2 separate regions of the Homo sapiens genome follow, and region 1 is linked to region 2. The links come from fine-mapping of genetic effects on gene expression. A gene starts in region 2. The other region holds a variant in brackets. All regions are shown on one strand. Distances are from middle to middle. Region 1 overlaps PMM1 (phosphomannomutase 1). Region 2 holds the start of SNU13 (small nuclear ribonucleoprotein 13).

Region 1 (15,574 bases), 110 kb before region 2:
ATACTACTCCACCTCCACCCCTAGGCATGGCAGAGCCAGCTCAGCATCTTGGTTCAGAAAAATTCCACTTGCTGTATAATCTTGAGCAGAGGCCAGAAGACCTGCTCCAGTGGACTCCTGGACTCATCCAGGCCTGCCATGCAGGGTGTTCAGGCTTTCTGAGCTCTGGACTCCAAGGAACCTTACAGGAACCTTGTGGGTGATTTTCCTTCCCTGGGAACTCCAAGCTCTGGGGTGGGAGGGGTATAAATTGGAGGCCACAGGCCTGTAACCCCAGCATTTTGGGAGGCCGAGGGAGGTAGATCAACTGAGGTCAGGAGTTCGAGATCAGCCTGGCCAACATGGTGAAACCCCGTCTCTACTAAAAATACACAAATTAGCCAGGCGTGTTGGCAGGCACCTGTAATCCCAGCTACTTGGGAGGTTGAGGCAGGAGAATCACTTGAACCTGGGAGGCAGAAGTGACAGTGAGCCGAGATCACACCACTGTACTCCAGCCTGGGTGACAGAGTGAGACTCTGTCTCAAAAAAAAAAAAAAAAAAATTAGCTAGGTGTGAGGGTGCATGCTTGTAAATTCCAGCTACTTGGGAGGCTGAGGTGGGAGGATCGCTTCAGCCCAGGAGATGGAGGCTGCAGTGAGTCATGACCATGTCAGTGTTCCCCAGACTGGATGAGACCATGTCTCAAAAAAAAAAAAAAAAACAAAGGATCAATGCTAGCCCCATTTTACAGAACAGAAAATAAGAGTCAGAAGTTAAGAGTGTTGACCAATGCGCTGGACGAGTTGGCTCATGCCTGTAATCCCAGCACTTTGGGAGACCAAGGTGGGCAGATCACCTGAGGTCAGGAGTTCGAGACCTGCCTGGCCAACATGGTGAGACCCCATCTCTACTAAAAATACAAAAAATCAGCCAGGTGTGGTGGCAGGCGCCTGTAATCCCAGCTACTCAGGAGGCTGAGGCAGGAGAATCGCTTATACCCAGGAGGCAGAGGCTGCAGTGAGCCGAGATCGTGCCAATGCACTCCAGCCTGGGCAACAAGAGTGAGACTCTGTCTAAAACAAAAAAAAAAATTTGACCAGAGCCAAGGCTATGTAGCCAGAAGGTGGAGGATGCAGGATTCAAACCCAGGCCTGGGTGTGGAGCCCATACTCCCACCTGCCATGTTGGAGCTGATGTGTGGCTTGGCTTGCTTGAAGTCACCAAGTTGTAGGTGACAAAGCTAAGGTTTGAACCCAGATGTGTGACTCTGAAACAACTGACCCTTATGCCGAACCATATTCTAGACCATCACTGGCCACCCTACCCAGCCACCTCCCAGGCCCCTGGAGTTAAGAGAATTGAACTGCAAACTGGAAGGACTTAGGGGTCATATGACCCCTAGTTTTGTTTTTCTGGTGAGGACTCTGAACCACGATGGGGTCGTTTGTGACTTGAAGTAACGCCGTGAGGATAGCAGGTGGGACCAGCCCTCCTCACTGTGGCCAGGGTTCAGGAGCTGCTCCCCTGGACTAGGCTCACCTGTGCCTCTTTCTTCCTCTTCCAGACGGAGCCCGTGGCTGGTGAGGCCGCAGAGCAGGGCCAGGCCGGGCCCTGCCCGCAAGGACGACCAAACCCCTCACCGGCCCCTGGGCCCCAGAGCCCACCAGGCTCTCCTGCTGGCCCCACCATGACTTCAGAGTCGACGTCACCCCCAGTTGTGCCCCCGCTCCACTCCCCCAAGTCCCCAGTCTGGCCCACCTTCCCCTTCCACAGGGAGGGCAGCAGGGTCTGGGAGCGGGGTGGTGTCCCACCTCGGGACCTACCCAGCCCTCTGCCCACCAAGCGGACCAGGACCTATTCAGCGTGAGTACCTGCCCCTTGCCCAGGCCCCTGACCCTTGTCAGGACAGGGGCTGACCATCCCCATCCTCTTCCAACTCCTGTTGTCCTCACCTGGGACAGGGGAACTGTGTGTGGACCTTCCAGTAACTGGATGGATGTTTGTCCCATACATCCATTCATCCATCCACCCATCCACCCATCCATCCATCCATCCATCCATCCATCCACCCACCCACCCACCCACCCACCCACCCACCCACCCACCCACCCATCCATCCATCCATCCATCCATCCATCCATCCATCCATCCATCCACCTGTCCATCCATCCATCCATCCATCCACCCACCCATCCATCCGTCCATCCATCCGTCTGTCCGTCCATCCATCCACCCATCCATTCATCTATCCATCTATTCCACAAAGATTTACTGAGCTCCTGACCAGTCAGGATCCATAAGCTGCTTACAATCCAGAGGGAACTTGTTCACCATCCATTACCACCCAGCAGGGTTAGGGGTGAGGACCCAGCATGGGGTACCAGAGGAGATGATGTCCTGGTTGGGTATGGAAGATGTATCAGGTGAAGAAGGGAGCTGGCGATTCTGGGCAGATGGTACAGCATGGGCAAAACCCAAGACACGGAGTTAACCTTTGGAGAGGGGTAGGTAGGCGGGACAAAGACTAGGCCTGGGCCTTTGGGGTAGGTCACCGATGAGGTGGCATAGGGGAGTAATACGGGTCCATATGGGGGAGGCCAAAGGATCTTTTGGGAAGGACAGGGTCTCGCTCTGTTGCCCAGGCTGGAGTGCAGTGGTGCAGTCATGGCTCACTGCAGCCTCAACTTCCTGGCCTTCAGCAATCCTCCCACCTCAGCCTCCTGAGTAGCTGGGACGACTGGTGCGTGCCACCACCCCCAGCTCATTTTTTTAAAAAAATGTTTGGGCCAGACATGGTGGCTCATGCCTGTAATCCCAGCACTTTGGGAGGTCGAGACAGGTGGATCAGTTAAGGACAGGAGATCAAGCCAGTATGGCCAACATGGCCAAACACTGCAAAACCCTGTCTCTACTAAAAATGCCAAAACTTAGCTGGGTGTGGTGGTGGGTGCCTGTAATCCCAGCTACTCAGGAGGCTGAGGCATGAGAATTGCTTGAACCTGGGAGGTGTAGGTTGCAGTGAGCTGAGATTGCACCCCTGCACTCCAGCCTGGGTGACAGAGAAAGACCCTGTCTCAAAAAAAAAAAAAAATTTTTTTTGTAGAGATGGGAGTCTCCCTATGTTGTCCAGGCTGGTCTCAAACTCCTAGGCCCAAGTGATCCTCCCGCCTCAGCCTCCCAAAGTGCTGGGATTACAGGTGTGAGCCACCGTGCCTGGCCTCATTATCGTTGAATGGGGATGACTGTGTGGTTTCTGGCCTGGGTCAAGTTTCTCACAGCCCTGAGGCACGCTCAGCAGAAAGGGCCCAGAATGGCTGTAGGGATCCGGGGAGGAGTTCCTCAGGCCACAGCTCCAATCCCACTACCCTATCTCCAGGACAGCCCGGGCCTCAGCTGGCCCCGTGTTCAAGGGCGTCTGTAAGCAGTTCTCACGCTCACAGGGCCATGGCTTCATCACCCCCGAGAACGGGTCCGAGGACATCTTCGTACATGTGTCTGAGTGAGTCCCCTCCACCTCCCTGTTCTTGGCCCCTGCCCTAGTGTCCCCAATGGTGCCTCAAAAATGGCTCTCCAGGCCTCTCCTCTCACTGGCTGAGGTCTGTATTCATGGTGCCTTTTCTGTCCTCTGAGTAGGGGCTGAGGGTGCGTTGGGAGAGGAGGGCTGGGGCCAGGGAGGGAGTGGGCACGCAGACCCCAGAAGCCTGGGAGCCAGCGGCTGGGCCCTGGATCCTGTTACAGCATCGTGGAGGTCTGAGAGGGCTAGGCCAGCTCCTGAGCCTCTTGGCCTGGAAAGGGCCTTCATGTGGGTGGGCCAGGAGGTAGAGATGGATATCATGTCTAGGCCTGGCCCCACCCACTTCTAATGCCAGGAGGACCGGGGGAGGTCACTGAGCTTCTCAGAGCTTTAGGGACCTCCCCGTGCCCTTTCACATCTCGGTCCCCAAGGGACCCAGAAAGGGAGGTACAGTTTATGAGTCCCATTTTATTTTATTTTATTTATTTTTTGAGAGGGAGTCTCGCTCTGTCGCCCAGGCTGGAGTGCAATGGCACAATCTCGGCTCAGTGCAACCTCCACTTCCTGGGTTCAAGCGATTCTCCCACCTCAGCCTCCCAAGTAGCTGGAATTACAGGTGCCAGCCACCATGCCTGGCTAATTTTTGTACTTTTAGTAGAGCCAGGGTTTCGCCATGTTGGCCAGGTTGGTGTCAAACTCCTGACTCAGGTGATCCGCCCGCCTCAGACTCCCAAAGTGCTGGGATTACAGGCGTGAGCCACTGTGCCCAGCCATGAGTCCCGTTTTACAGATTCGAGAGCTGAGGTTCTGAGAAGCAAGGCCTGGCCAGGCCTCCTGGCCTAGGGAGGCTTAGGGCCAGGCTGCCCCCAAGGCCAGGCCACAGGATTGTCTGGGGCACAGGGCCTGCTGCTGGGCTAATACCCCTCTTCCTGCCCGCCAGCATCGAGGGGGAGTACGTGCCAGTGGAGGGCGACGAGGTGACCTACAAGATGTGCCCTATCCCTCCCAAGAACCAGAAGTTCCAGGCCGTGGAGGTGGTGCTCACTCAGCTGGCCCCCCACACTCCCCACGAGACGTGGTCTGGCCAGGTCGTGGGCTCCTAGGCTGAGTGGTTCACAGGCCAGCTGGCCGGGGGTTGGGGAGCCACACAGGGTGAACGGGCAGCAGCCGGCTCCATGCCCCACTGCCCTGGCTGATGAGTCCTTCGGTGGCCTCAGTGTGCACGTCTGTCTGTCCGTCTGTGCTTGTGGCTATGAGCGTGTGCCTCCACCCACCCCACGACCCGTGACTACTGTGCAAGCTGGCCAGGAGGTAGGTGGAGGGCAAGGCCACCAGACCTGGCTTCGCGCTGTCCACTGCCTCTCTCCTCCCCTCCCTGCCGCAGACACGCAGGACCCGCTCGCCCTCCTGCTTACCCGTCCCCACGGTGACTGAGCTGCGAGAGCCTGCGCTGGGCTCACTCCCTGGCCTCCGCCCCTGAGCTGTCCCGTGTCAGTCCCTGGCCCGGAGCCAGGCTCTCTGTGCTACTTACATCTCCCTCCCTTGGCTGAGGTCCCCCGCCACAGCCTGGACCCTTCCCTCAGAAGCCTGGCCGATGGGTGCTTTTGGGGAGCCTCTCAGCCTCTGGCAGGGGAGGAGGACTGACACGGAGGCACACAGGCCTCTCACTGCCGAGGCCAGCCTTCCTTCCTGCTCTGCTCTCTCAGTGCCATGGAGAGGCAGGAAGAGGGGCCTGAGGGCGGAAGGGGTTTGGGGCTCCCATTTCGCCGGCCAGTCCCTCCTCCTCAGCCTGGCAGTGGCGCTGGGCTCCTTCCCCTGGGCTGTACTGAGCCGAGCCCAGGGGTTTGCAGAGGGTGGGGGTCCATCTCTCCAGCTTGGCTGCAGACCTCCTTTACCCTGACTCACAAGCCCCACTGATGCTCTGGGCCATGCCCGGCTGACGGCTGCTGTGGATGCCGCGAGGGACGGACACACGTCCGGGGCACCCACGAGGAGGGCCCCCAGCCTGGGAGACTGGCCCTGCGGCCTCCACGTCAAACTCTCTTCCCAAAGCCCTAACAGACCAGTGGCCGAGGTGTGGCTCTTATTGCATCCATCCCTGAAGATGTGTGGCTGTTGCTGTCACCTGGAGTCCTTTTGGGGCCAAGATGTGTGTGCACCCGGGGTCGTGGCCATTCACTCCCAGGCAGGGGTGAGGGTGGCCTGGCCCAGGAGGCCAGGAAGGAGGGCCCTGTCTGCCTCCACCTCTGGGTGCACCCCCTGCCTACCACCCTCCCTTCTAGAGAGCACATCGCCTGACCGGGGAGAAGTGGGGCCGTGGTTCGAGGGAGGGCTGGCCAGGGGTGGGACCCTTATGAGACTCAGTCTGTGAGTAAAACTGGGGGCTCAAATGCCCAGGATGAGGGGATCAGTGACTGTCTAGGAGGATCCCTTGCCTTGTAGGTGCCCCAAGACCGCAGGGTAGAAATCAGCCGGGATGCCTGCATCCCACCCCCGGCCCCAGGGCCCACCACATAAAATCTGGGAGCCCAGAGCTGCTGAGGTGTGGTCAGCTCCCCTAAAATGGGCACGGCCCAGCCTGTCCCATGAGGAATAAAGGCCCCTGGCCCCCTTGAGAGAGGGCTTGTTGGTGAGGGCTGACTCCTGGGGGCCCCCAAGGCTCCCCTCCTGTGGGGAGGCCACCTTTTAAGGCACCACTAGCAGTCAGGATATGGTGGCATCAGCCCTGGGGCCTCCTGGGTGGCAGGGGGGCAGCAGCTCTCCTCCCCACTCACAGGCCCTGCAGTGCTCATTTGGAATTCCTCCCAAGACCCCTGGCCACCCAGACCCCCCATTCTTCCTAACACTGGCAATAAACCCTCAACTGTGACCCACCGTGGCCTGAAGCTGCCTCTGTGTCAGGGTCCCCAAGGAAGGGGCTGGGGGTGGACACACCAAACCAGCTCTTCTTTGGGGATTCAATGGCCCCCTCCTCGACTGCATCAGACTTCCTTTGTGACCTGGGCCAAGTCCCTGCCCTCTCTGTGCTGTTTACTTGTCGGCAAAGTAGTGGCTGTGACAGCATGTGACTGGGGCCAATTATCCATTCAGACACAGCTGACACCTACTTTGTTCTGGGAACTTTAATACTGTGACAAAGTTCTCTAAAATAGGCACCTTCCCCACCGTACCTCATCGCCCAGGGCAGGCAGGCAGGGCAGGCTAGATCTCGTACCGATACTTGAGCACGCCTCCTCCTGGTGCAGAAAGAAACCTCTTCTGTACCGAAATACAAGCAGCAGCTGTGGCCTGGGCCACCAGGTGGAGCATGGGGAACACTCTGGGCCCTGGGAGGACGAAGCCAGTGCCACTAGGAGCAGACTGGCTGGGGACGGTTGTCCACACAGACTCTGGCCCCATCTGGGTGGGCTTGCAGCAGGCGTCCTGGGCCAGAGGAGGGGCCCTGGCATCTATCCAACACCAGGACCTCTCTTTAGGCCTAGGCCAAACTCTTCAGAAGTCACGACACACAGATGTGGGCCCCGGTCACGCCTCATGAGCTGTCTCTGGGAAGAAAATCTCCCGGCATCGCTGCACCGTGTCCTGAGGAGACACCACGCTGTGGCCAACAGTCCGGGGGTCGGCAAAGATCTCAAAGTCGTTCCCACCCTGCACACAGAGGATGGGCAGAGGAGGGATATTTAGGTGGAGTCCCTCTCCACATTGGCTGCTACGGACCTGCCCCTCCTCCTGCCCCTTCAGAACTGCCAGGAAGCCCACCTTCTCACCCCTTGTCAGACCTGCCCTGACTTGCTGTGTGATGTAGAACAAGTGCCCAGCCTCTTGGGGCCCCAGCTTTCCAATCTGTGTAACGGGGCTGGTGAGCAATGGTTGTTCTCCAGGAGCCCCCTAAGAGGTCTGTTGTGTTGCCCCATGTTCTGGCCTTGACCTCAGGTGATTTGCATTGGAGAAGCCACCAGACCTGGCTTCTCACTGTCCACTGCGTTAGGGGAAACCTGGGGTGGGCCACACTCACAGGGCTAGTCTCGTTCCCAAAGAAGTGGATGGTGTCGAAGCTGTCCTGGTCCAGGCTATCCAGGCAGTAGCGCTTGTCCCAGCCCTCGGGGAAGACGTCAAAGCTGATCATGCCTCCTGTGGGCAGGGGTGGGGACTGTTATTCCCTGCTGGGAGGGGCAGACAAGGCTAACAGAAGGGCTGCTTGTTCATTCATTCATTCAACAACCCTTGAGTGCCTACTGAGGGCCAGGAATAGGACACGGGACAGACTTAGGATCCTCAAGGAAGTTATGACACAGGTTGGAGAATGAACAAGACCATGAAGTGGGTGGGGGAAGCTCATCCGGCCAGGGTGATCAGGGGAGACCTCTGAGGAGGTGGCAATGAGCTGGGACCTGAGCCGAGTGGGGATGGCTGGGGCGCAAAGTACAGCCCCTGAGGCAGGGAAGAGAACGAGCGTCCCAGCAACGGAGGAGGCCAGGAGAGGTAGGGGGAGGACGGGCAGGCCCTGGGCATCACATGGAGAGGGAGGAAGAGCCTGGGGAGGACTTTGGGCAGAGGCATGTCATGACTCCAGCTCCAGCCTCTCTGGCCACTGGGGAATGGGTGAGGTGGCAGAGGGGAGCCCAGTTGTGTCAGGGTCAGTTGGAGCCTGGGACAAGCTGCTGGCAGTGGAAGTGTGAGCACCGGTGGGATTCCAGACAGGGGGCCCTGTGACTTCTAGGAGTTTGGACTTGGGAAGGGGTGGGGGAGAGCATTCAAGGGAGAGGCTCTGGTTTTTTGGCCTGAGAAACTGGGTGGGCATGGGGCGTTTACCTCTGAGGTATGAGGTGGGGAAAACTGGGGGCCAGTAAACACTGAACCCCTTTCTGCATCGGGCTCAGCCACCCTCTCTGCCCTGAGCCGGGGAGGGGCTACTAAAGCTACTGGGGGCCACAGCCTGGTCTTGGCAGGGGCAGATGGTTTGAGGAGGGGCCCTGTACCAGGCCTCCCAGGTCCTCTGCAGGGTGGACGTACCTCGAGAGAACCTCAGCCCTTTGCCAGCAAACTCTGTTTTCAGGGCTTCCACGAACTTCTCCCGGATCTTCTCTTTCTGCAGAGGGGAGGGAGCGGATGGCAGCTCAGAGGACCTGCTGTGTGCCAGGCCCTGGCTGGGCACACAGTCCACGTGAGCGTGCTGAGCATTCTAGGTGGGTAGGACCCCCAACTGTGCAGATGCGCAAACTAAGGCTCAGAGAGGGGTTGTGCCTTGGTCAAGGTCACCTAGCCCTGGTGGCAGAGCCAGGGCCTAAATCCAGAAGGGATGGGGCTGCCAATGGGGCTGTGGGCTGGGTCTTCTGAAGGAGACCTCAGAGGAGAGACACGAGTAGGAAGGGCGAGGAGACGGGGCAATCTGGATCCCACATCAGTGTCCACCTCAGGGCAGGGCTCGATCCTGTTATCTGTAACCAGCTCAACAAAGCAAATACTCAGAAATGAGCATGGGAGCTGAGAGCAGGAGACCTGTGAGGAGGTGGCTGTGGGCATTCACAGAGGGCAGCAGGATGCCAGGCATGGCAGAGCACCCAGCATGCAAAGACGCGGCTGGGCTGGGGACTAGGTAGTGCCCAGGCCGGCCCCGTCCCTCTGAGCAGGAACTCTGGCAGCAGCTCCGCAAACGTGGAGCAGGGGGACATTCTCCCCGCCAGCCCCCAGGATCTCCATCTCAGAGGGCCACAAAGGGGAGCAGCTATGCCCAGTCTGAGGGGCAGCTGAACATCTAAACCAGCCAGCAGGACATTCAGCTGACAGAGGGTCTCGAGACCGGGCTGGGAAGTCTGACCACATCCTGGGGGACCAAGAGGCGCTGAGGATTCTGGAGCACAGGAGTGGGGTGGCTGGTATGGCCCTGTAGTCAGAGCCGGGTAGGACTGGGGCGGAAAGGCAGGCAGTGGTCAGCAGCATGGAGCTTGGAGAAGTGGCCCAGGGAGGATGTCAGATATAAAGCCAGACACCCCCTAGCCTGAGATCTGAAGGCAAGTAGCCAGGCTTGGCTACTGTACTCCTCAGCTGTGTGACCATGGGCAAGTCACCTGACCTCTCTGAGCCTATTTCCTGGACTAAAGGACAGAGAAGTAATGAATGACCCCTGCCTGCTTCCCTCTCATGGAAAAGCAGAGATAAGGGATGTGAGCCCCCTGCCAGCCTTGGCCTGGCTTTCCAGCAGGTAGGTGGGCCCCAGGGAGGCCAGAGTCCCCACCAGCGTCCACTCTGTAGGCCCAGGGCTACCACTAAGACTGCCCCAGGCTCTGAAGAAATGTTTCCACATGGCCGAGGCTGGCTGCACCTCCCTTCTCTGGAGAACAAGGCTGGTCACTAGACAGCCCCATGTGCAAGGCCAGCCTCAGCAGGGACCGGCACTGTGACCTCGAGCTGGTTACTCACCCTCTGGCCTCAGTGTCCTCATCTAAGGAAGGGAAGTACTCATCCCCGCTTCAGGGTTCTGGAAGATGAGCTGGGTTAAGCATTTATTTACACCAGCTCTGGGCCAGGGCAGGGCGCACAGATCAGGAAGGTTCATGCTCCTCCAGTGCCAGAAGGGAGCAAACAAGAGCCAAAAATACTTGAGAAGGCTCTGGGGTGGGGAGTTAGGGTGTGGCTCCCCAACTCCATGCCAGGTGGGGTCCATGTGCCACCTCA[T/C]CCAGTGCTCATGACAGCCCATGGGATGGGAACTGCTATTACCCCCACCTTACACATAAGGAAACTGAGGCACACGTTAGTAAAGATGCTTTTCCAGGTTACAAGGCAAATGGGTAGAGCTGGGACTGGGAACCTGGGTGGACAGGAAGGGATAACTTCTCAGCACGTGTATTGGGGGGGAAGGGTTCTTTGCCTAAGACCAATCCTAACTACCCCAAAAAAAAAGTCCCCGTGGCCGGGCGCAGCGGCTCACATCTATAATCCCAGCACTTTGGGAGGCCAAGGTAGGCAGATCACTTGAGGCCAGGGATTTGAGACCAGCCTGAACATGGCAAAACCCTGTCCCTACTAAAAAATACAAAAATTAGGCCGGGCGCGGTGGCTCATGCCCGTAATTCCAGCACTTTGGAAGGCCAAGGAGGGCGGATCACAAGGTTAAGAGATCGAGACCATCCTAGCCAGCATGGTGAAACCCTGTCTCTACTAAAAATACAAAAATTAGCTGGGCGTGGTGGCAGGCGCTTGTAGTCCCAGCTACTTGGGAGGCTGAGGCAGGAGAATCGCTTGAACCCGGGAGGCAGAGGTTGCAGCGAGCCGAGATCTCACCACTGCACTCCAGCCTGGCGACAGAGTGAGACTCCATCTCAAAAAAAAAAAAAAAAAAAAAACCCAAAACCAAACCAAAACCAAAACCAAAACCAAAAAACTTAGCCAGGTGTGGTGGCATGGGCCTGTAATCCCAGCTACTCAGGAGGCTGAGGCAGGAGAATTGCTTGAGCCTAGGCAGCGAAGGTTGCAGTGAGCTGAGATCATGCTACTGCACTCCAGCCTGGGTGACAGAGCAAGACTCTATCAAGAAAAAAAAAAAAAGTCCCTGTGCCTGTGGGCACTGCCTCCCCTAAGCCTCAGGGCACAGGTGGGAGTCAGGAGTCACTGAGCTGAGAGGCACCCTCAGGGAGGCACCAGAGGGCCAATGGCAAAATCAAATCTTTGCTCTGCAACCAACTCCCTATGTGACCTCGGGCAGGGCCCTTCTCATCGAGCCTTGGTTTCCTCATTTATAAAATGGAGATAATACAGCTCATTTCATTCATTCAAAAGGTATTTCTTGCCGGGCACAGTGGCTCACACCTATAATCACTTTGGAAGGTTGAGGTGGGTGGATTGCCTGAGCTCAGGAGTTCGAGACCAGCCTGGGCAACACGGTGAAACCCCATCTCTACTAAAATACAAAATATTAGGCCGGGCACAGTGGCCACGCCTGTAATCCCAGCACTTTGGCAGGCTGAGGCAGGCGGATCACGAGGTCAGAAGATCGAGACCATCCTGGCCAACATGGTGAAACCCCGTCTCTACTAAAAATACAAAAAATTAGCTGGGCATTGTGGTGCATGTAATCCTAGCTACTTGGGAAGGCTGAGGCAGAAGAATCGCTTGAACCAGCGAGTCAGGGGTTCCAGTGAGCCGAGATTGTGCCACTGCACTCCAGCCTGGTGACAGAGCAAGACTCTGTCTAAAAAAAAAAAATTAGCCGGGCGTGGCAGCATGTGCCTGTAGTCCCAGATACTTGGGAGGCTGGGGCAGAAGAATTGTTTGAACCCGGGAGGTGGAGGTTGCAGTGAGCCGAGATTGTGCCACAGCACTCCAGCCTGGGTGACAGAGCGAAACTCAGTCTCCAAAAAAAAAAAAACAAAAAAGGGTATTTCTTTGCGAGGTGCGGTGGCTCACACCTACAGTCTTGGTGCTTTGGAAGGCTGAGGGAGAAGGCCCACTTGAGGCTAGGAGTTCAAAACTGGCCTGGGAGACACAGCGAGATCCCATCCCTACAAAATATTTTAAAAATTAGCCTGGCATGGTGTAATGCACCTGTGGTCCCAGCTACTCAGGAGGCTGAGGTGTGAGGATCGCTTGAGCCTGAGAGATCGAGGCTGCAGTGAGCTAGGACTGGATCACTGCACTGCACTCCAGACTGGGCAACAGAGTAAGACCCTGTCTCAAAAACAATAACAACAAAAAGTATGCCATGTGCCAAGCATAGGGGATCCAGAGGAGAACAAGCCGCAGAAATCCCTCATGGAGCTTACAGTTCTGGGACAGGGACAGACAGTAATTCGGATTTTAAAAGTAGATGATGAAAGTTGTCCAAGGCTACTTGGGGAGAAATAAGGTAGGGGAAGGAGGAGGAAGTGCAGCAGTGGATGTGATACTCTCGGAGGCCCCACTGGGAAAAGGATGTGAAAGGGGATTTGAAGGAGGGGAGGGACGAGCTGGGCCTGAGAGAAGTGTGCTCTGACAGAGGCACAGCACTCTAGAATCAGCCAAGAGGCCATAGCTGGAGCAGAGGGCAGGGAGAGCCACCGAACAGGTCAGAGAGAATGACAGAATGACGTGGACGGGCCAGCATGGAAAGGTCTGGATGGGTGGATTGCTCCATCCCCGAGAGGGAGGGAGGCGGTGGGGAGAAAAGCAAAATGCACATCAAGGTTTAGCAGGGGCAGTACAGGCAGAGGTGAGAGGACCTTGGTGTGTTCCAGGAATAGAAAGTGGAACTTGAAGGGCATAGAAAGGAGACGCGGAGAGCCAGAGCCAGACAGAGCCCTCAGGGCTTGAGGCACCATAGCAGGGGGCTAGGACATCATCCAGTTGGCAACGAGGAGCCAAGGAAGGATTGTAAATGAGGGGGTGGGGCTGGGGGGTGAATGCGGCTGACATGTTTGAAAGGTTCTAATGGGCTGTGCGTGGTGGCTCATGCCTGTAATCCCAGAACTTTGGGAGGCCGAGGCAGGCGGATCACCTTAGGTCAGGAGTTCGAGACCAGCCTGGCCAACGTGGTGAAACCCTGCCTCTACTAAAAAAGTACAAAAATTAGCTGGGTGTAGTGGTGCATGCCTGTAATTCCAGCTACTTGGGAGGCTGAGGCAGGAGAATCGCTTGAACACGGGAGGTGGGAGTTGCAGTGAGCTGAGATCATGCCACTGCACTCCAGCCTCTATCTATTTTTTTGGAGACTCTATCTCCAAAAAGAAAAAGAAAGAAAGGTTCTCAGTGGCATTGCTGGAGAGCAGGCTGGCAGGGCTATGCAAGGGGTAGGGAGGGACAGAGAGGAAAGTTGGGGCAGCCTGGGGCTGGGGAAAGGGGTAATCTAGAAAGTGGGGTCTCAGTTCTGCAGATGAACAGATTTGACACTGACTCGAGAGGCTGATGAAATAAGAGTTGTTGGACCCGATGTGGGTGGGAAGGTGGAAATGATGTTCCCAGGTGTTGGCCTGGCTCAGTGGGTGGCTGCCTGGTGCTGGTCACCTAGGAAGGGGGACCAGCAGCATTGTAAAGATGCAGGTGTGTCTACAACAATGGCACACAGTAGGTGCCTGAAAGGGTATCAGTTAAATCAGAACACATCCCCCAGTCTATTTTACTGATGAGAAAATAAAGGCTCAGATAAATTGAGTGACTGAGGCCCTACAGGCCTAAGATTGCATAGCTAGTGGTACCTTGTCCAGTTCGGAGAACTCGATCCTCTCCTCCAGGGTGCAGCTCCGGCCGATGGGCGAGATGTTCAGCATGCCATTCCGGAACTCGATGAAGGTTCCACTGGTGGTGAGGGAGGGCGGGGAGCCAGAGAGAACCAGAACGGCCCTGAATTCAAATCTAGCCCCACCTGGGACCCCAGCCTCCTAGGACTTCAAAGGGGACAAGAATCCACACTCCCCGCAAAAAATCAGGGGCCCAAGTATCTCCAGGTTCCCTCTGAGGGACCCACACTTCTCCTCCCTCAGGCCCCAGGTTCTGGAGACCAGGCTGGTGGGACCTCACCGCTTCTTGGGCAGCCTGAGCAGGGCCATGTAGCTGAGGCAGAAGTTGATCAAGTCCTGCAGCAGCTCCTCCCCCAGGTGGTTCTGGATGGTCTGGCCAAGGAACACAGGGCTCTGAGCGTGGCCTGGGCTGCCTGACCCTGAGACAGGCACAGTGTCTCTCCCCCAGCCCAGGACAGAAGCCCCCTTGGACTGCTCCACTATGGAAAAGTGGGGTGCCCCTGGCTAAGCCCTGGGGGACACTGACCTGCTTGGAGAGCAGTCGTCCGTGCTTATACTGCACCGTCCCGTTCTCGGCAAACACATAATCAAACTTCTCAATGACTTCAGGGTCACATAGAGGACAGGAGGAAGAAAGAGTGTGAGACCACGTCTGTGACCCCACGGGCAAGTAAAGAGAGAGGAAGCCTACACCCTTGGTTTCACATTCAAAGGCCATTTGTTCAATCTGAGGCTACAACCTGCTTCTCCAGCCTTTCTCCCTCTGCAGCTTGGTTTTCTTCCAAAGAAGCCAGTCACACCTGTGGGCCTCTGCACACAGGCATCCATGCAGGTCCTTCTGTCAGAACCGCCCTTCCCTGGCTTCCCTGCCACTCATCCTCCAAGATTCAGCTTCCTCCTCTGGAAGCCATGCAGTACTCTCTGGCAGAGGGCATCATTTCCACTCTGTGCTCCCCTGCCCCTCTGCAGAGGGGCTCCCTTCTGTTCTATAGCTGCCATCGCACTGGGTTCTCAAGGCTGGCTGCATGGGAGAGTTGGAGGTTTCAGCTCTGACTGCCAGGCGAAGCAGTTGGAGTGGGTGGGAGGTGGGAGGCACAGGGAGCACAGCCCAGAGGCTGTTGCGGGGTCTGGGTGGCACGTGGTTACCTGGACTATGATGGCGTGGTGGAGATGGAGACAGAGGGGACAGGGAGATATTTTGGGGTTTGCTGATGGAATAAACAAGAGGTGGGGAAAAGGAAAAATTCGAGGAAGTTTCTGGCTTGAGGAACTGGAGGCACCCACTTTGACTGGGCTGAGACCAGGGGCTCTGAGGTCCAGTCGATTTCCTGGATAACTTCAGAGTCATCCTCTGTTAAATGGGATGATCACGCCTACTCTAAAGTGTGATTGTGGGGATCAAATGCAATGACATTAACACATGATCATTTTTGACAAATGGTAGCCATCATTGGTTCTGCCCTTTTATTTATTTATTTATTTATTTATTTATTTATTTATTTATTTTTGGATGTGTAGCCTCACTCTGTCACCCAGGCTGGAGTGCAGTGGCCTGATCTTGGCTCACTGCAACCTCCGCCTCCCAGGTTCAAGCGATTCTCCTGCCTCAGCCTCCCGAGTAGCTGGGATTACAGGCACGTGCCAACACACCCAGCTAATTTTTTGTATTTTTAGTAGAGACGGGGTTTCACCATGTTGGCCAGGCTGGTCTTGAACTCCTCATCTCAAGTGATCCATCCGCCTCGGCCTCCCAAAGTGCTGGGATTACAGGCGTAAGCCACTGTGCCGGCTGGTTCAGCCCATTTTAAAGATGAGGAAATCAAGACTCAGCAGGGAGAAATGAGAATGTAAACTGCATAAGGGCAGGTTC
Region 2 (15,574 bases):
TAAAAATCTTCAACGACAAAAGAGCTCTACCACATCAAACTACCCAGCATCTATTAAAATGAGAGTATTCTGGCTGGGCATGGTAGCTCACGCCTGCTGTTATCCTAACACTTTGGGAGGCCAAGGCAGGCAGATTGCCTGAGCTCAGGAGTTTAAGACCAGCCTGGGCGACAGAGCGAGATTCTGTCTCCAAAAAAATAAAATAAAATAAAAATAAGGCTGGGCAGCCGGGCACAGTGGCTCACGCCTGTAATCCCAGAATTTTGGGAGGCCAAGGCAGGCGGATCACTTCAGGTCAGGAGTTCGAGACCAGCCTGGCCAACATGGTGAAACCTCGTCTCTACTTGAAAAAAAATAAAAATAAAAATAAGGCTGGGCACAGTGTCTCACGCCTGTAATCCCAGCAGCACTTTGGGAGGCCAAGGCAGGTAGATCACCTGAGATCAGGAGTTCGAGACCAGACTGACCAACATAGTGAAACCCCATCTTTACTAAAAATACAAAATTAGCTGGACGTGGTGGTGCATGCCTGTAATCCCAGCTACTTGGGAGGTTGAGGCAGGAGAATCATTTGAACCCGGGAAGCGGAGGTTGCAGTAAGCTGAGATCCTGCCATGGCACTCCAGCTTGGGCAACAAGAGCAAAACTCTCCAAATAAAAAAATAAATAAATAAATAAAATAAAATTAAAAAAATAATAATGAATAAAGTGAGAGTATCCTATATCACCTCTGGGCAGAAGCATCATGCATACATAATTATTCTACTGAAAAACAGCTTTTTTTTTTTCCTTTTTTACAAAGGGAGGTAGTGCTCGCTTCAGCAGTACATATACTAAAATTGGAACAATACAGAGAAGATTAGCATGACCCCTGCACAAGGATGACATGCAAATTCGTGAAACGTTCCATGTTTTTGAATAATTGCATCCAAAAAAAAAAGGGAGAGGGGTAGGGAATGTTTCTGGGAACCAAATGAAATTCATGAATGTTAAGTATCCACCGTATAAGGGATGCTAAAAAGCATTAATATCCCTTTCCTTCTGATGGCTCTGGTGAGGTCATACAGCCACTATACAGTCTCCACAACTGCTTTCAAATGGCTCAGCAAAAATAAAATTCACTTATAGAGTGAAAAAGAAGGTAAATGTGGCAAAATGTTAACAATTGGTGGGTCTAAAAAAAATTCTTAGCCCATCAGCTTTAGCATCTAATGCCAAAGTCCTCCCACTGGTTGTAGTCGAGAGCAGCTAGCCCTCCTCCCAAACTGGAAATCAGATCAGAGGCCCCAGATGGAAACAGGTGCCTTTAACATTCCCCCAGAGCATCCTGTGGCTGCCTTACCCTCATTGGCTCCTTTCCGAAGCTGCTTATAGTTACATGACTGCTGAACGAGGTCCAGTAGCTTCTTGGTGAGGTGGGCATCGGCAAGGGGATAGGCCTTTGGATTCACATCAGCCTCAGTCTATGGGGGGGACATAAAAATATCAGACAAATTGAGCCAGAAGTTTTCCTACCTGAGTCACAAAATACTAATCAACAATTGAGACACAGGGGGCAGCTGCCCTGCTCCCTAACCCTCAAACACACAAAACACCAGGTAGTTAACAATGGACTTTCCACTCCTACCTTCGAAAAAAAGGAAATACACTATTAGGAATTACACAGTTCAGTAAAGTATACTAAAGCTCATGTACTTTTGTCTTTCTTCAGCCGAATGTTTGATAATATTACAGCAAATGGATTACAAACGGGTTCCCATGGCTCCGCATCCATTTGAGTCCATGGCTAATCCATTTCTGTTTTTATTTTTTAGATGGAGTCTTGCTCTGTTGCCCACGCTGGAGTGCAGTGGTGCGATTTCAGCTTACTGCAATCTCTGCCTCCCGAGTTCAAATGATTCTTGTGCCTCAGCCTCCCAAGTAGCTGGGACTATAAGCGTGCACCACCATGCCAGGCTAATTTTGTATTTTTTGTGGAGACAGGGTTTCACCGTGTTGGCCAGGCTGGTCTCAAACTCCTGGCTCACGCCTGTAATCACAGCACTTTGGGCGGCCGAGGCGGGTGGATCACCTGAGGTCAGGAGTCCATGGGTAATCTTTAAATTTGAACTTCCGTATTCCACCTGAATTTACTGAATCAATAAGATATAATTTACAGTAAATGTAGCACAAAGTTTTCTTTCCATTCCCCACTCCATATGCGTATCTTCTGTTCAAACCCATGGTTTCCAACACATTAAAGTATTTCCTCACCTCCTCTACAATACACACAAAATGGTTCCAAAATTGCTACACCAATATACCACCTCTACCAACAAACTCACCAAAGTCAAAATTTATTTTTGTTCTTAGGATATATCCTATCAAAGCCATCCAGTGGCAGGACTTTGTTCAAAAGTTATTCAAATTAAAATTTTCCTTGTGGTTAGCAATTTGGTATACAAGTAGATTTATTTTGTAGTCAGCTTGCTTTAAATTTTATTTTTCAAATATGTAAAATATCTTCATGGTTTAAAAGTCAAAACTATGCAAGTGATAGCAACTCAATATTTTGAAAACTGGGAAAGGGAAACAATCATCTTCTGTGCCTTTCCTAAATGCTGTATTAGGCGGTAACCAGGTAGAAGATGAGAAGTACCTCTTGTATCACTCTTCCGCCTAATAAATAAAGAGGGAATGGTACAGTTAAATATCACCAACTTGCAACCCTTATTAACTAATTAATGGCATTTGCAGTTATGTTAAAAATTCTTACTTTATAGATATATACTGTAATACTTATGGATAAAATGATGTCATTCAGATCTGTGTCAAAATAACCCATGTAGGGGACGAGCGCGGTGTCTCACGCCTGTAGTCCTAGCTACTCGAGAGGCTGACGCAGAATAGCTTGAACCCAGGAGGCGGAGGATGCAATGAGCGGAGATGGCGCCACTGCACTCCAGCGTGGGCGACAGAGCGAGACTCCGTCTCAATAAATAAATAAATACACACCCATGTAGGGAGCATATTGGGTGAGTGGCCTGCCTATTCCGCTCCTTCCATCTCATTCCCACTGCTCCAGTAAATCATTTTCATTAATTTTTCTCTTTTTTTTTTTGTTTTTACAAACACATATTTATATACAAGGATATATTCATATTATAACCCAGGTGCGGCCCCACATGTCGCCATCGTGTGTAACGTGCGAATCGCGAGTGATTCACTGCGGCTACCACCTAACCTCGGCCTTGGAGGCTGGACATAGGGTGGACGGCAGTCGCTGGAGACGGAGATGGCCTGGTGGGACCACTCATCTATAGCGCCTGCCTCGGTGGTCTCCTGCCCGACACCGCGCACCTGCCTTTTCCTCCTTCCGTTTTTTTACAGCTTTTCTGACACAGCGGGACCACGCTCGCGGCACCACAGCTCTCGGGAGGTGACCCGGAGATAATGGCCCAGTAGGAACACTCACCATAGCGTCTGTCTTGGTAGTCTCTTGCCGGACACCGCGAGGATACCACGCGTGTCGGTTTGGACGGTCTGCTGCCCAGCACCGCAAGGACACGGATGCCCCGCCCCCAAGAGCAGGAAGTGACGCCACTGCCGCCAGCGGAAGTGACGTCCAGGGCCAGCCCGTACACCAGGACGCCCTGTCTTCTACGTAACTCCTTATCTTAGGCGAATTTGTCTTGGTCCCAGGACAACTAGGAAGAATTAGGTGAAGGATGGAGGAGTTCTCTAAAGGAAGGGGGTTGGGGGAGGTCAAGGGAAGACCTCCATATTATTTTTCTCTTCCTCATACATTTATTTATTTAGAGACGGAGTCTCCCTCTGTCGCCTAGGTTGGAGTGCAGTGGCGCGATCTCGGCTCACTGCAGCCTCAGCCTCCTGAGTACCTAGGATTACAGGTGACCGCCATCACGGCCGGCTGATTTTTGTATTTTTAGTAGAGACGGGGTTTCACCACTTTGGCCAGGCTGGTCTCGAACTCCTGATCTCAGGTCATCTGCCTGCCTCAGCCTCCCAAAGTGCTGGGATTACAGGCATGAGCCACCGCACCTGGCCATCCTTTCTTTTTAATGTCTATAGAGTATGTCTCCTTCACATGTTACCTACTTAAACATTTTCTTTTTTGAGACAGGGTCTCGCTCTGTCACCCAGGCTGGAGTGTAGTGGTGGCATCTTGGCTCACTGCAACCTCCTCCGGGGTTCAAGCGATTCTCCAGCCTCAGCCTCCAGAGCAGCTGGTACTACAGGCATGCACAACCACGCCCGGCTAATTTTTCTGTATTTTTAGTAGAGAAGGTCTTTCACCATGTTGGCCAGTCTGGTCTCCCAATTGCTGACCTCAAGTGATCCGCTTGCCTTAGCCTCCCAAAGTGTTGGGATTACAGGCGTGAGCCACCGTGCCTGGCCTTATTTTTTCGATTAATCTTTCTGAGGGGGACTTTCCTGGGCTCAAGTGGTCCTCCTGCCTCAGACTCCCAAGTAGCTGGGACTACATGCATGCACCACCACGTCTGGCTAATTTTTTAATTTTAGAGGCACTGTCTTATTATGTTGTCCAGGCTGGTCGTGAACTCCTGGCCTCAAGCAATCTTCCTGCCTGGGCATCCCAAAGTACTGGGATTACAGGTGTGAGCCACTGTGCCCAGCCCATTTATATATTTTTTAATCTTTCACTATTATGTAAATGCTATAATGTCTAATCTCATCTATACCTAATCTATATTATGTTTCATTCAGTATATCTGTAAGATAAACTCCTAGAAGTGGGATTAACGAGTCAAAAGATATAATATGCATTTGTAACTTTTATATCTATTCTAAATTGACCCTATATAGGGTTTAACAACTTGCACACCCACCAGCAATGCATGACAGTGACTAATTCCCCAAAACTTTGACAACAGTGTCAAACTGAACTAGCTTCGTTGCCTGGGGTAAATATCCAGGGTTTGTTGTCTCATGCCAAGAAAATTTAGGACATGGACACACAGGAGTTTAGGAGCAGGGTTTTTTTTTGTTGTTTTTTTTGAGATGGAGTTTTGCTCTGTTGCCCAGGCTGGAGTGTAGTAGTGCGATCTTGGCTTACTGCAACCTCTGCCTCCTGGGTTCAAGCAATTCTCCTACCTCAGCCCCCACCAGTAGCTGGGATTACAGGTGCGCGTCACCACACCGGGCTAATTTTTGTATTTTTTAGTAGAGACTGGGTTTTGCCATGTTGGCCAGGCTGGTCTCGAACTCCTGACCTCAGGTGATCTACCTGCCTCGACCTCCCAAAGTGCTGGGATTACAGGTGTGAGCCACTGCGCCTGGCCGGGAGCAGAGGTTTAATAGGCAAAAGAAAGAGAAAGAACAGCTCTCTCTGGTGAGAAAGAGGGGCTTCGGAAAGGAAAAGACCCAGCAGTATGCTCTACTTTCTATTTCAGCAATTTCTCCTTTTGTTTTTTTTCTTTCCTTCTACTTTCTTTGGGGTTATTTTGTGCTAGTGTTTTTTTCTACCTTTTTATCCCGTTTCTCCCTAGCATTAGCATCTTAGGCTCCAAGTAATACTTTCATTATATCCTTTCATTTGTTTCTTCCCCCCTCTGCCCTTGTCACTTATGCTCTGGTATGTGGTATTTTCATTATTGTTCTGTTCTATTTTTGAATTCCTACTACAATTTTTAAATCTCTCTGATAGTTTATATTTTTCATTTCAAACTACTTTGTTACTAATTTTTAACTTATTTCCTTTTGGGTTAGGCAAAAATGGTATGTAATATTACCAATGTTAAAATTTGCAGGGCTTGCTTTATGGCCAATTTTCAAAAACGTTCCATGTTTGAAGAGTGTATTCTGAACTGGCTGCAGTGGCTCAGGCCTATAATCCCACCAACTTGGGAAACTGAGGCTGGGGACTGATTGAGGCCTGAAGTTTGAGACCAGCCTGGGCCACACAGTGAGACCCCCATCTCTAAAAATATTTAAAAACTTAGCTGGGGCAGTCCAGGCACAGTGGCTCACACCTATAATCCCAGCACTTTGGGAGGCCAAGGTGGGTGGCTCTCTTGAGGTCAGGAGTTCAAGACCAGCCTGGATGACATGGTGAAACCCCCGTCTCTACTAAGAATACAAAAATTATCTGGGTGTGGTGGCAGGCACCTGTAATCCCAGCTACTTGGAGGTTGAGGCAGGAGAATGGCTTGAACCCGGGAAGCGGAGATTGCAGTAGGTTGAGATGATGCCACTTCACTCCAGCCTGGGCGAAAGAGTGAAACTCCATCTCAAAAAAAAAAAAAAAAAGAATTACACCCTTTTTGTTGTTGAGACAGGGTCTCACTCTATCACTGAGACCAGAGTGCAGTGGCATGACAATAGCTCACTGCAGCCTCGACCTCCAGGGCTCAAGCGATCCTCCTGCCTCAGCCTCCTCAGTAACTGGAACTACAAGTGTGGGCCACCACTCCTGGCTAATTTTATTTTATTTTATTTTTTATTTTTTGAGACGGAGTTTTGCTCTTGTTGCCCAGGCTGGAGTGCAGTGGCACAATCTCGGCTCACCGCAACTTCTGCCTCCGAGGTTCAAGCAATTCTCCTGCCTCAGCGTCCTGAGTAGCTGGGATTACAGGCATGCGCCACCATGCCCGGCTAATTTTTGTATTATTAGTAAAGACGGGGTTTCACCATGTTGGCCAGGCTGGTCTTGAACTCCTGACCTTGTGATCCGCCCACCTCAGCCTCCCAAAGCGCTGGGTTTACAGGCATGAGCCACTGCACCCGGCCAACTCCTGGCTAATTAAAAAAAAAATTGTTTAGGCTGGGTGTGGTGGCTCACGCCTGTAATCCCACCTCTTTGGGAGGCTGAGGCAGGCAGATCACTTGAGGTCAGGAGTTGGAGACCAGCCTGACCAACACGGCAAAACCCCGTCTCTACTAAAAAAATACAAAAAATAGCCGGGCATGGTGGCACATGCTTGTAATCCCAGCTACTCGGGAGGCTGAAACAGGAGAATCGCTTGAACCAAGGAGACAGAGGTTTCAGTGAGTCAAGATCGTGCCACTGCACACCCAGCCTGGGTGACAGAGCGAGACTCTGTCTCAAAAAAAAAAAAAAAAAAATTTGTAGAGACAGGATCTCACTATTTTGCCCTGGGTGGTCTCCAATTCCTGGGCTAAAGAGATTCTCTCGCCTCAGCCTCCCAATTTCTGGGATTGCAGGCTTGAGCCACAGTGCTTGGCCACATCCCGTCTTTTAACTGGAGCACTCAGTCCCTTTACATATTTAAGTATTGGTATAATGGTTTCAAATTTTCCTTCTTTTGTGCCTTCTATTTGTTCCACTTGTTCTGTTTCTTTTTCTTTCTTTCCTTTCTCTGGATTTATCATTGCATTTGCACTATTTTCCCCTCTACTGATTTGGAGTTTATTCTTTTATCTTTTTTTTTTTTTTTTAAGAGACGGCATCTCCCTCTGTCGCCCAGGCTGGAGTGCAGTGGCGCAATCTCGGCTCACCGAAACCTCTGCCTTCCATATTCAAGGAATTCTCCTGCCTCAGCCTCCCGAGTAACTGGGACTACAGGCATGCACCACCACGCCCAGCTAATTTTTGTATTTTTAGTAGAGATGGGGGTTTCACCATGTTGGCCAGGTTGAACTCCTGACCTAAGGTGATCCACCCGCCTCGGCCTCCCAAAGTGCTGGGATTACAGGTGTGAGCTACCACGTCCGGCCATACAAATGTTTTATTTGATACTACAGTAGGGATTTTTTTTTTCTTTGACACAGTCTTGCTTTGTCACCCAGGCTGTAGTGCAGTGGCATGATCTCGGCTCACTGCAAACACCGCCTCCCCGGTTATAGTGATTCTCCTGCCTCAGCCTCCTAAGTAGCTGGGATTACAGGCACGCACCACCACGCCTGGCTAATTTTTGTATTTTTAGTAGAGATGGGGTTTCACCATGTTGGTCAGGCTGGTCTTGAACTCCTGACCTCATGATCCACCCGCCTCAGCCTCCCAAAGTGCTGGGATTACAGGCGTGAGCCACCGTGCCCAGCTGGAAATTTTGGTTAATAATTTATCACAAGTTTTATTTATTTATTTTTTTGAGACGGAGTCTCAAACTGTCACACGGGCTGGAGTGCAGTGGTGTGATCTTGGCTCACTGCAACCCCCGCCTCCCAGGTTCAAGCGATTCTCCTTGCCTCAGCCTCCCAAGTAGCTGGGATTACAGGTGCCCACCACCACGCCTGGCTAATTTTTTTGAATTTTTAGTAGAAACAGGGTTTCACTATGTTGGCCAGGCTGGTCTCAAACTCCGGACCCCATGATCCACCCGCCTCAGCCTCCCAAAGTGCTGGGATTACAAGCATGAGCCACCGCGCCTGGCCCTGTTGCATGTTTTAAAATAGATATACTTAGAAATATTACATGGAACCCCCAAAGTATGTACAACTATGATATGTCAATTTAAAAAAACTTTAAAAATTGCCATTGTTTCCAACAACCCATTCTCTGGAAATCAGGATTCTCAAATCTCAATAAACATCAAATTCATAAAAGAGGAAGACTTCAGGAATCTGAACAATCATTAAATACCTAAATGTTTCACTATTAGTCAACAAAAAAGTTAAACTCAATTTTAAAACCAAACTAGCTTATAAACACTAATTGAAACTTGCTTAGGGTGTATTTATTTGCCTTTCAATTTCTTCAGGGGTTAAATAAATTAACGAATGATATCATACCACCAGCCAACCTAAATCCCTACCTAGCATGATCAGTTTGGTTTCGCTGTACACCAGACAGCCAAAACTTGCAAGGTTTTGATTGAACAACAAATACTGCGTGCTTACTCTGTACCAAGCATCAGGACTAGATGTTTACCATGCTTTATTTCATTTGATCCTCACAACACCCTCATGCACTGTCATCCCCATTTTACAGTTGAGGAAAACTGCAAAGTTCAACCTGAGACCATCCGATTCCAAAACGTTTCAGGGAGCTGCGTTAAAGCGAGCACTGAGTTTGGAAGCTTCAAGTTCTAGGCTCAGCCACGTACTAAGCTTCAAAATGCATGGGAGGAGGTTTGTGGGGAGTGCTACCGCCGGGATCCAAGCTCCACTGGAAGGATTAACTATAGAAGTTACAGTGCTTTACAAATTCTTCCCTCCTCACCAAGTGCCAACCAAAACTACTACGCCAGGACACACGTTTTAGAACTTTCCCTAGATGTTTAAAAGTCAGAGACGACCAAGAGTTTAGAGACGCCGCACGTGGTGCTACCAGACTTCTGGTTTTTGAAGCCACCGCCTTGCAGGAGAAGCCTTTCCTGCACTCCAGGCCGTGAGTCGCGCTCACTTCATGTTCCCCACAGCCCCCAAATGCCAAAGGCTCCTCTAGGTCCCTGGCGCGTGTGACTCGCGGCGGGCACTAAGCGCAGACCCATGGGAGATCTCCTCCTGAACCCCAGCAACGGGGGTGGGGTGAGGTAGGGTGGGTAGGAGAGGTTGATCCGAATCCCAGGGTCCCACGCCATCGTAGATTTCGTATGAAAAGAAACAAGGAAAAAAAAAAGTTGGAGCCAAGTTTTCTTCACCCAACTTTTTGCCCTCTCCCACGTGGGTTGGTCTCTTTCTCCCAGGCTGGGCCATGCCCCCTCCGCTCGCTGCAGGCCTTTTGCCAAGCAAACAGACCGTGCGGCAAAGCAACACAGCTGCGGGGATCCTAAGGTTTCCTGAGTTCTAACCTCGGGCCAGGCTGCTGGGACCCCGCCGCTGCTGGGGTTCTAACTAAGGGCCCGGCGGTTAAGACCCAACGCCGGCGGATGAGACGGCGCAGGCTCTAAGCCTCCATCTAACAGGCTAGGGAGTGAACGCAACCCTGAGTCTCCCGCTTCCCGGTCCCTCGGCCGGCGCACGCACTCACCATGGCTGCGGTTCCGCGGGCTCAGCACTCCTAGGGGAGCGCAGCTGACGTTTCAGAAGCACTCGCGTGCACCGGAAAAACTCACAGAAGCAGCAGCGGAAATGGCCCCGCGCGGCAGGAAGCGAAGGTGACGCTACGCGAGCGAGTGGGCCCCGCCCTCTACGGGGGCACTGGCGCGGAAACTGGCCCTGTGTCGAAGAAGGAACGTACTTTGGCGTTCTTATGAGCTGCCTAGTACAAATTATTGGCAGAAACAATGAATTAAACATTCAAAAAGTAACCCACCGGCCGGCCGCAGCGGCTTATGGCTGTAATCCCGGCACTTTGGGAGGCCGAGGCGGGCGCATCACCTGAGGACAGGAGTTCGAGACCAGCCTGGCCAACATGGCGAAACCTCGTCCCTACTAAAAAATACAAAAATTAGCCAGGCGTGGTGGCGGGCGCCTGTAACCCCAGCTACTTAGGAGGCTGAAGCAGGAGAATCGCTTGAACCCCGGAGGTGGAGGCTACAGTAAGTTGAGATCATGCCACTGCACTCTAGCACTCCAGCTGAGGCGACAGAGCGAGACTCTCAAAAAAAAAAAAAAAAAGGCCGGCCGGGTGCGGTGGCTCCCGCCTGTAATCGCAGCACTTTGGGAGGCTGAGGCAGGCGGATCACTAGGTCAGGAGATCGAGACCATCCTGGCTAACACAGTGAACCGTCTCTACTAAAAATACAAAAAATTAGCCGGGCATGGTGGCGGGCGCCTGTAGTCCCAGCTACTCGGGAGGCCGAGGCAGGAGAATGCCGTGAACCCCGGAGGCGGAGCTTGCAGTGAGCCGAGATCGCACCACTGCACACTGCACTCCAGCCTGGGCAACAGAGTGAGACTCCGTCTCAAAAAAAAGAAGAAAAAAAAGAGGGCCGGGTGCGGTGGCTCACGCCTGTAATCCCAGCACTTTGGGAAGCTGAGGCGGGCGGATCACCTGAGGTTGGGAGTTCGATACCAGCCTGACCAATATGGAGAAACCCCCGTCTCTACTAAAAATACAAAATTAGCCGGGCGTGGTGGCGCATGCCTGTAATCCCAGCTACTCGGGAGGTTGAGGCAGGAGAATCGCTTGAACTTGGGAGGTGGAAGTTGCAGTGAGCCGAGATCGCGCCATTGCACTCCAGCCTGGGCAACAAGAGTGGAAACTCGGTCTCAAAAAAAAAAAAAAAAATTCCAGCCACTAAACAGTTAAGGCCTGGCTCATTATAATTGGCTGACGTCCCTGCCTGCTCAGATATTTAATATTTTGAATAGAACTTTTGGGTAAAAGAGTCTTCAGGGTAACATTTATTTTCCCACCAACACTGATCCTAAGATGGGAAAAGTAATTCCCCCACAGGAAATCAGGATACTGCAAGCAACGAGAAAGGCATGTTGAGTGGTTAAACAAGAATACATGTATTCAATACAGTGTTCATTAAATGTTTGATAATAGAAGGACAGGCAGATCCAAGTATTTCATAGGAAGAAAGAAATCAAGCAGACCGCAGGTTATATCACCCCATCACACATTCAGGGAACTTAATCTTTTCATTCCAGAGGATGGGTTTGTTTAAAACAAGTTCTTCCTCCTAATTACTTTTGAACAATTCCCCAATACTGTCCTTACCTGCACCAAGAGCATGCTAACCAGGCCTGGCACCAGGGTCAGAGTTGAGGCTGGGGCATCAGCCCCCTTTGTGAGGTGGCCTCAGTGACAGGGGTGCTATGAGGTGGCGGCTATCCTACTGCAGCTGGCTGCATCAGATGTGCCAGGCCTGCCCTCTAGCTCCCAACACCATCTGCCTGATCTAAGCTTTGCCATGTTGTTGTCACTGCTGGGTGCCTGTGCTGTGGTGGGGCCATTCCATGGCCCTGAGTGGGAGCCAGTGCAGGGCCTGCTCTCCCAGAATCACAGCTGCAGGGACCCTCAGTGCTGTGGCAACCTGCTTGTCCTCTGCCTCTTTCTGGTCTGGCAGGTCCGGCACTGTTGGCACCAGGTCACCAGGACCCGCTTCAGCACAAGGAATGTCATCAAGGTGAGTGGGCCCCATACACCTTCACCCTTCTTCCCTCAGCACCATGATTGTCTCTGTCACTTGTTACAAGGACCTTGTTTTATGCCTGGTGTACCAGAAATGAATCAGAGGGAAACTCAGGCTGCTCAGGGAGAGCATCGGCCAAGCCCCAAACCCAGGAGTCACCCTGAGCTCCTCTCTTTCCCTCACTCCACACATTCAATCCATCTGCAGGTCCCAGGGGCTATACTTGCAAATTGTATCTCAAATCTGATCACTTCTAACCACACCACACCCTCCTGGGCAGAGACACCATCATGTCTCAACTGGACCATAGCAACAGCCTTCTGCCTGGTTCTTGCTGCTTCTCTTATCCAACCACAGCCTATCCTCCATACAGTCACCAGAATGGCCTTCTTCTTTCTCTCTCTCTCTCTCTCTCTCTCTCTCTTTTTTTTTCTGAGACAGAGTCTCACACTGTTGCCTGGGCTGGTGTGCAGTGGTGTGATCTTGGTTTGCTGCAACCTCCGCCTCCCTGGTTCAAGCGATTCTCCTGCCTCAGCCTCCCGAGTAGCTAGGATTACAGGCGCCCGCCACCACGCCTGGCAAATTTTTTTTTTTTTTTGTACTTTTAGTAGAGATGGGGTTTCACTTTGTTGGCCAGGCTGGTCTCGAGCTCCTGACCTTGTGATCTGCCTGCCTCGGCCTCCCAAAGTGCTGGGATTACAGGTGTGAGCCACTGTGCCTGGCCTCTTTTTTCTCTCTTTTAAAAAAAAAAATTGGTCCAAGGATAATACACACACACAATTACAAGTGTGTAGATCAGTAAATTTTCATAATTGAATACATCAGTTTGTAGCATGCAGATTAAGAAACAAATGATTACCAGCAGCCCAGAAGTTTTAGTCACAACTCTGCGGATTTCCTTTTCTTTTCCTTTTTTTTTTTTTGAGATGCAGTTTTGCTCTTGTTGCCCAGGCTGGAGTGCAATGGTGTGATCTCGGCTTACCTCAACCTCTGCCTCCCAAGTTCAAGCAATTCTCCTGCCTCAGCCTCCTGAGTAGCTGGGATTATGGGCATGCACTACCACACCCGTTAATTTTGTATTTTTAGTAGAGGCGAGGTTTCTCCGTGTTAGTCATGCTGGTCTCGAACTCCCGTCCTTATGTGATCCGCCTGCCTTGGCCTCCCAAAGTGCTGGGATTACAGGAATGAGCCACCACTCCTAGCCAACTCTGCAGATTTCTTTCTTGTTTTTCTTTTTTTTCTTTTCTTTTTTTTTTTTTTTTGAGATGGAGTCTTGCTGTGTGGCCCAGGCTAAAGTCCAGTGGTGCGATCTCGGCTCACAGCAACCTCTGCCTCCCAGGTTCAAGTGATTCTCTTGACTCTGCCTCCCTAGTAGCTGGGATTACAGGCATGTGCCACCACGCACAGCTAATTTTTGTATTTTTAGTAGACACAGGGTTTCACCATGTTGGTCTGGCTGGTCTCGAACTCCTGACCTCAAGTGATCCACCCACCTTGGCCTCCCAAAGCGTTGGGATTACAGGTGTGAGCCACCACGCCTGGTCGACTCTGGATTTCTTTCTTTCTTTCTTTCTTTCTTTGAGACGGAGTCTTGCTCTGTCACCCAGACTGGAGTGCAGTGGCGCGATCTCGGCCCACTGAAAGCTCCACCTCCCGGGTTCATGCCATTCTCCTGCCTAAGCCTCCTGAGTAGCTGGGACTACAGGTGCCCGCCACCATGCCTGGCCAATTTTTTTTTTTTTTTTGTATTTTTAGTAGAGACGGGGTTTCATCGTGTTAGCCAGGATGGTCTCAATCTCCTGACCTTGTGATCCGCCCACCTCGACCTCCCAAAGTGCTGGGATTACAGGCGTGAGCCAGTGCACCCAGCCTCTTCTTTTTTTTTTTTTTTCAGATGGAGTCACGCTCTGTCACCCAGGCTGGACTGCAGTGGCGTGATCTTGGCTCACTGCAACCTCCGCCTCCTGGGTTCAAGCAATTCTTGTGCCTCAGCCTCCTGAGTAGCTGGGATTACAGGCATGCGCCATGATGGCTGGCTAATTTTTGTATTTTTAGTAGAGAAGGGGTTTTGCCATGTTGGCCAGGCTGGTCTGGAACTCCTGACCTCAAGTGATCCACCCATCTTGGCCTCCCAAAGTGCTGGGATTACAGACATGAGCCACCATGCCCTGCCATCAGAACAAACTTTTAGAAACAGAACATAGCACTTAGCTGCTCAAAACCCTGCAATGGCTCCTATACTTACATTATCTGGCAAACTCAGAATAAAATTCTCGCTCCTAATCACGACTCTAAGGACCAGCATAATCTGTCCCATGTTTGTCTCCGATCTTATCTCCCAGTGCTCTCCTCATTACTGGTTCCATTCTGGCCACACAGTCTTCTTTGCTGTTCCTGTACATGTAATTTTGTTCCATCCTCAAGCCTTTGTACTTAATGTCTCTTCTGCCTACAACGCTCTTTCCTCAGATGTCACTTGGTTTGCCCCTTACTTCATTCAGGCTCCAGTCAAATGTCACTTCCTCCAAGAAGCCTTTCCTGACTATTCTGTCTGTGCGGATTATGCAAGTTATTATGTGTGCAAGGATTTTGCTTCTCTGTTCTCATCTACAGGTGCCACTGCAGAAGCGGGCAGTGCCCTCCATGAGGTGCGAAACTGTCTTCAAGCTGACTCCTGAATTCTTCAGTCCTGGAAAGTCCAGGGGCCTAGATTCTCAACAATGCGCACAAAGGCAGAGATGGGGATACCGGAGGAGCCTCCAGGAATCATGGGCCCAGAACCTGCTCTCTCCACAGCACCCATGTCCAGGCCCACCTTCGGGTGTCCACACCCACTCTGAGCCCATCTTTTGTACCACCTCCATTTCAAACACCTGTTTACTGCCTCAGAACAGTTCCTGGAAAGCATGGCAGGTGCCTTGGTGTCTCCATGATGGTCAGACTCGCCCTGCCTTGGACATGTGTCAAGAGATGGAGCAGCTGCTGCTTCACTCACAGGAAAGGTTGGTGTCACTGGAGCCTGTCATCAGTGTGAGGTCTCGCCCCACCTCCATGACCTTAACCACCTCTCTTCCAAACTTACTTTCAGCTGAGAGGCTGCAGTTCTGCCCCCAGAGAGCTCCTGCCTGATCCTTCCCACCAAACACTGAGAATGTGCACTTGGAAGTCTTGGCACTGTCGACCAGAGGCCTGGGAACCAGGGGGTAAAAACCAGAAAGCAGGCAGAGAGGATAGTAGAGAGACCCAGGCTCCAAGGTGGGTGAACCAGACAGGGAGCAGACGGGAGGATGCTTCAGAAATCCAGGCATCTGGGGAGTAGTTCCCAGTAGACTTTGGAATGGAGGGTGATGCAGAGACTAACGTGTTGGAGTGTGCAAACCAGAGACTAGTAATAAGTGAAACTGATGGCGAGATCTTGACACCAGGGTGGGACACCCAGGACCGGATGGGAGTTGAGAGTAGAACCAACATTCAGGAACTAGGGAATAGAAACCAGAGGGAGGCTGGAGGTGAGAATCTCCCTGAAACCCAGGCACATATGGGAGAGAACCAAGAACAGTTAAGATGTAAAATTGATGCAGAGACCCAAACACCTGAGTGGGAGAACCAGGATAAGAATGGAAGTG

Evidence for each region. PIP is the estimated chance that this variant, and not a neighbour inherited with it, causes the effect.
Region 1: its variant is fine-mapped to the expression of SNU13 in monocytes after interferon gamma (Fairfax 2014, PIP 0.93).

The regions. Positions count from the first base shown.
Region 1 is chr22:41,570,297-41,585,870 of GRCh38, forward strand. It overlaps PMM1 (phosphomannomutase 1), which reads right to left. Exons shown (of 8, transcript NM_002676.3): 3 at 14,231-14,307; 4 at 13,985-14,076; 5 at 13,663-13,762; 6 at 8,510-8,585; 7 at 7,512-7,627; 8 at 6,604-7,144. The coding sequence ends at 7,022. It overlaps CSDC2 (cold shock domain containing C2), which reads left to right. Exons shown (of 4, transcript NM_014460.4): 2 at 1,547-1,845; 3 at 3,359-3,481; 4 at 4,437-6,370. The coding sequence starts at 1,670. The coding sequence ends at 4,599. Among named protein-coding and RNA genes, the nearest start is that of PMM1, 12 kb to the right of the region's middle. The variant T/C (reference allele first, on the strand shown) is at 10,172.
Region 2 is chr22:41,678,902-41,694,475 of GRCh38, forward strand. It overlaps SNU13 (small nuclear ribonucleoprotein 13), which reads right to left and starts at 9,966. Exons shown (of 3, transcript NM_001003796.2): 1 at 9,893-9,966; 2 at 1,343-1,463. The coding sequence starts at 9,895. It also overlaps the pseudogene RNU6-476P and the pseudogene C22orf46P. RefSeq lists enhancers at 9,166-9,335, 9,886-10,065 and a silencer at 9,447-9,646.